Linked DNA regions of Homo sapiens: region 1 is linked to region 2. Evidence: fine-mapped expression QTL. A gene starts in region 2. The other region holds a variant in brackets. All regions are shown on one strand. Distances are between the middles of the regions. Region 1 overlaps WNT4 (Wnt family member 4). Region 2 holds the start of CDC42 (cell division cycle 42).

Evidence for each region.
Region 1: its variant is fine-mapped to the expression of CDC42 in monocytes after LPS (Quach 2016, PIP 0.95).

What each region holds. Positions count from the first base shown.
Region 1 is chr1:22,117,346-22,120,342 of GRCh38, reverse strand. WNT4 (Wnt family member 4) reads left to right here. Exons shown (of 5, transcript NM_030761.5): 5 at 1-2,997. The coding sequence ends at 293. Among named protein-coding and RNA genes, the nearest start is that of WNT4, 24 kb to the left of the region's middle. RefSeq lists enhancers at 1-63, 2,226-2,275 and a silencer at 1,041-1,210. The variant C/A (reference allele first, on the strand shown) is at 1,115.
Region 2 is chr1:22,051,260-22,053,759 of GRCh38, reverse strand. It overlaps CDC42 (cell division cycle 42), which reads right to left and starts at 1,051. Exons shown (of 6, transcript NM_001791.4): 1 at 1,018-1,051. RefSeq lists enhancers at 1-62, 63-630 and silencers at 343-522, 533-752, 813-962.

The DNA.
Region 1 (2,997 bases), 66 kb before region 2:
TGGTGCCACGCAACGCACAGTTCAAGCCGCACACAGATGAGGACCTGGTGTACTTGGAGCCTAGCCCCGACTTCTGTGAGCAGGACATGCGCAGCGGCGTGCTGGGCACGAGGGGCCGCACATGCAACAAGACGTCCAAGGCCATCGACGGCTGTGAGCTGCTGTGCTGTGGCCGCGGCTTCCACACGGCGCAGGTGGAGCTGGCTGAACGCTGCAGCTGCAAATTCCACTGGTGCTGCTTCGTCAAGTGCCGGCAGTGCCAGCGGCTCGTGGAGTTGCACACGTGCCGATGACCGCCTGCCTAGCCCTGCGCCGGCAACCACCTAGTGGCCCAGGGAAGGCCGATAATTTAAACAGTCTCCCACCACCTACCCCAAGAGATACTGGTTGTATTTTTTGTTCTGGTTTGGTTTTTGGGTCCTCATGTTATTTATTGCCGAAACCAGGCAGGCAACCCCAAGGGCACCAACCAGGGCCTCCCCAAAGCCTGGGCCTTTGTGGCTGCCACTGACCAAAGGGACCTTGCTCGTGCCGCTGGCTGCCCGCATGTGGCTGCCACTGACCACTCAGTTGTTATCTGTGTCCGTTTTTCTACTTGCAGACCTAAGGTGGAGTAACAAGGAGTATTACCACCACATGGCTACTGACCGTGTCATCGGGGAAGAGGGGGCCTTATGGCAGGGAAAATAGGTACCGACTTGATGGAAGTCACACCCTCTGGAAAAAAGAACTCTTAACTCTCCAGCACACATACACATGGACTCCTGGCAGCTTGAGCCTAGAAGCCATGTCTCTCAAATGCCCTGAGAAAGGGAACAAGCAGATACCAGGTCAAGGGCACCAGGTTCATTTCAGCCCTTACATGGACAGCTAGAGGTTCGATATCTGTGGGTCCTTCCAGGCAAGAAGAGGGAGATGAGAGCAAGAGACGACTGAAGTCCCACCCTAGAACCCAGCCTGCCCCAGCCTGCCCCTGGGAAGAGGAAACTTAACCACTCCCCAGACCCACCTAGGCAGGCATATAGGCTGCCATCCTGGACCAGGGATCCCGGCTGTGCCTTTGCAGTCATGCCCGAGTCACCTTTCACAGCGCTGTTCCTCCATGAAACTGAAA[C/A]ACACACACACACACACACACACACACACACACACACACACGGACACACACACACACCTGCGAGAGAGAGGGAGGAAAGGGCTGTGCCTTTGCAGTCATGCCCCTGAGTCACCTTTCACAGCACTGTTCCTCCATGAAACTGAAAAAGGAAAACACACACACACACACCTGCGAGAGGGAGGGAGGAAAGGGCTGTGCAATAAAGTCCTCTCCCATTATCTTACTCAACACAATTTATTGAGCAAATACTACGTGTTCTAGGCCCTGTACAGGCCATCTCACTTGATGGCCACAACAGTCCTGGGAAGCAGACAAACCAAGAATGCTAATGCCCATCTGACATCAGAGACGGCAGTGCTCCCCAGACCTCTCACAGCAAGCTGGATGGACAGGCAGGGCCAGAAGAGTCCTCCAGCCAAGCCTCCTCCTTGGTTCTTGTACCCAAAGGTAGAGAAACTGCAGGTCTTCTTGGGTCTGAGCCTGGGGCAGGGGTTCTGGCTGGACGAAAAGGGGCAGGGAAGCAGCAGGAGCCAGAGACCACAGGCTGAGCTGGAGCCCACATGGTTCCTAAGGGCAGAACAGGCTCTGAGGAAAGATGTGAACAGCTGGAAGGCTGACAGTGAGGTCTCAGCAGTGTGGTGCACCCCTCCCCAGCACATCCGAGTCCCTGGGGTCCCAGGTACCATAGGTACTGCAAGATTTCCCAAGAGACAGCACCAGCAACCTGGGCCTGACCCTGTACAACCGCCAAACCATCACGAGCCCCGCCCAGGCTTGTGAGAAGGACATGCATGGATCAAGACCTTGCCCTTGACCCATCTGCTTCTCAGATGGGCTCCCAATCACCAGAGGAAGTTGCTGTAAGCCCACTTTCCAGACTGCCCCCACACTGGGGCTCTAAGTTTCAGGTCGGAGATTTTATGCTCTGTGATCCCCCACTTGGGGTTCCCAGACTCCAAGCTCCTGGCTCCTGTGTTCAGTGGCTGAATTCAACGTCCGAGATTCGGAATATGGGCTCCAGCCTGCAGAAACTCTTCTCCAGGCATTGTGGTTTGTGCCTCCTAGTGTTGGCTCCCTCATGAAAAGAGGGTCAACACCCTTGGCCCCCAGCCAAGATCTCTGCTCAATGTCCATACAAGGAGGAAGCCAAAACCAAGTGAGGTGCTGGAGCCACATTCAAATGTGGTTGATAATCTTGGGGCAGGCCAGCTCTGATGTGGATGAAAGCTGATCCAACTGTCGCCACAGCTGCCCAGCTGGGTCCGCTGCTCCCCTGGCTGGCTGTTCAGCTGTCTACTAAGCCCAAAAAAAATACTATGCCTCACTAGCAGAGGCTAGACCCAGAAAGAGGGAACAATGAGGACCCCTCCCCTCCCAGAGGAAAGAGCTGAGCCACTCTCCCCATCCAGGGAACAGTAGGTCCAGGCTGGATGCTGGTATGATGGGAACTGCCCTTTTCACCTGCCAGGGAGTTCCTAAAGCTGATCTTCCTGGGGTTCTGAAGGTTGCGACCTAGGTTAATGAGACCAAATTCTAGGAACCACTGCCCAGGCCAACCACCGCCAGTGCTGCAGAGATCAAAGAAATCCACAGCCACAGGAAAAGGAGCTTCTTTGGACATGCCCAGCTCCAAACTGTCCCAGGGGGAACTGGCACAGCCCTTACATAGCCCACCCCCTCTTGGCCTCACCGTGGCCTGGAAATTGGCCAGAGGGTCCACATCCTGCCCAAACCACTCTCCTCTCGTCCCAAGGCAAAGGTGATGCCCTGAGGCCTAGGGCTGGATAAAGCCCAGCTCTGGATGCTGCTAACCCACTCTGCTGCCCCACCCCATCCTCCAATTTTTATACTAGGCTCTTTGCCATTGTGACGTCCCATGACAT
Region 2 (2,500 bases):
TACGACGTGTTGGGAAGCAGGCAGGATAAGCCACTGGGTGACCGACTAAGGCTGCAAAATGCTGTTTGAATTTAAGTCCCTGACTTGTAGGAGTTAAGTCTCACTCCTTATACCGCGATGACGTAATCTTCCACACTACATTTATCTTGGACTTAAAGGGGAGGAAAAACAAACGAACAAAGAAAATTCCCCCCCGATAAGAGGAATTAACCAAGCAGCAGAACGACGGCTTCGGGAGGTAGTTAGGTAACTCCCCGAAAGGGAAGCTTCAGCTAAACCGGCAGGGAGCGGGCTGGAGGAGCGGATGGAAATGCTAGGAACTCGACCTCCGAAAGGAAGAGCAGCCTGGAGGCCGTGGCTCGGGGCCACCCCGCCCAGAGGACGCGGCCGGCGCGGAGGGGAGCTCGGACAGGCACCGCCGCGAGCAGCCAGCGAGCTGCCCTCCTGCCACCGCCCCGCCGCGGCCGCAACGCCACTCCCCTCCCCCGCCCCCCCACCCCCGCCGCAAAATGTCCGCGGCGGCGCCCGGCGAAGCAGGAAGTCCAGGCCGGAGCGCAGGGCACGGAACGCAGCCTGCCAGCACGGAAGACCGGCGCCCGGCCCGGCCCAAGCGCCCGCGAGTCGCTCTGAGGCCCCCGGCCGCCCTTAGGAGCCCGCCGGGCCGGGCTGGGGGGAGGGGAGCCCGGGCGCCCAGGATGGGTGTGACCCCCTTCCTTCCGCCGCTGCCGGTGACAGCCCGGTCCCGCTCGCGCCCCGAGCCCCGGCCGCGCGCCCCTCCTCAGACGGGCGCCCCCTGCCTCCCCGGCCGCGACCCCCGCCCCGGCTCCCCCACAGAACGCGGACCCGCGCCCGCCCGGAGGACGCAGCGCGAGCCGGGCACTCCCCCACAACCCGTGCTCCCGGGCCCCCCACGATCCCGCAGACGGGGTGTCCCCGAGGACTGGGAGAGGACGGAGACGGCGGGGATGGGAAGGTAGGGTGGCAGCTCCCGCGGGGAACCTCGGGCCCCGCACTCACCTCAGCTTCTCCACCGGGGCGTTGGCAGCACTGCGCGGGGTCTCCTCGGCTGCCGGACAGGGGCACGCACCTGACGTCAGCGCGCAGGAGACGCACAGTTGGGTGCCCGCGGAAGTGGGAGGAACAGGGAAGGGGAAGAGGCTGGGGCGGGTCAAGGCGGTGCCTGGACTGCCCTGGCTCCGCCCGCCTGTCGCGCACGCGCGGGCCGGCGCAGCTCGTGAGTTCGGGGCTATGCTCTGCATGTTTTCCTAATGGTTGTATTTGTAATAATACTGTGAACGATAGTATGCAAAGCGCTTCCTCTACCAGTTCTTTTTTGTTTGTTTTTTCTGAGACAGTCTTGATCTGTTGCCCAGACTGGAGTGCAGCGCGCGATCTCAGCTCACTGCAACCTCCACCCCTTGGGTTCAAGCGATCCTCCTGCCTCTGCCTCCCGAGTAGCTGGGATCACTGGCACCTGCCACCACGCCAGGCTAATGTTTGTATTTTTAGCAGACACGGGGTTTCACCATTTTGCCCAGGCTGGTCTCGAACCCGTGACCTCAAGTAAGTGATCCACCTGCCTCGACCTCCCAAAGTGCTGGGATTACGGGCGTGAACCACCGCGCCCGGCCCACTACCAGTTCTTTTGATCCTTGCAAGCTTGTGAAGCAAGGTATTGTCCCATTTTGCAGAGAAGACGGAAGCTTCTCTGAAAGGGCTGGTGACTTGCCCCAGATCACAGGGGTGGATGGTCTCTCACTCCCCGGGCCTGTATTCAGTCCGCCGTGATGTGAGAACTGAGTATCACTCTTCTTATCTCTACCTACACCCAGTGTCCCTCGCTGTAGCCACATGGGTCTTTTTTAGAGTTACAACCTTCCCCCAACCACAGGCCTTGTGTTTTTGTTGTTGTTGTTGTTGTTGTTGTTGTTGTTTTTTCTTTGAGACGTTCTTGCTCTGTCACCCAGGCAGGAGTGCAGTGGCACGATCTCAGCTCACTGCAATCTCGACGTCCCGGCGATTCTCCCACCTCAGCCTCCCAAGTAGCTGGGACCACAGGCGCATGCCACCATGCCTGGCTAATTTTTGTATTTTTTTGTAGACACAGGGTTTTGCTGGATTGCCCAGGCTGGTCTCGAACTCCTGGACACAAGCTATCAGCCTGCCTCAGCCTCCCAAACTGCTGGGATTACAAGGTGTGAGACATTACGTCTGGCCAAGGCCTTGAATTTCTTTGCTCTGCCTCCCTCCTCTTCCCCCAAATTTATATCACTGCATTCTTCAATCATCCTATCTTCGCAGTATCTATTATTTGTCTTCTCTGCTAGTATGAAAGCTTCAGGAAAATAGAGAACTTCCCTCTCTTATTCTTAGATGTTTCCCCATGTTAGAGAAAAATCGCTTAAATTGCTTATCCTAGGCCGGGCACGGTGGCTCATGCCTGTAATCGCAGCACTTTGGGAGGCCAAGGCGGGCGGATCACGAGGTCAGGAGATCGAGA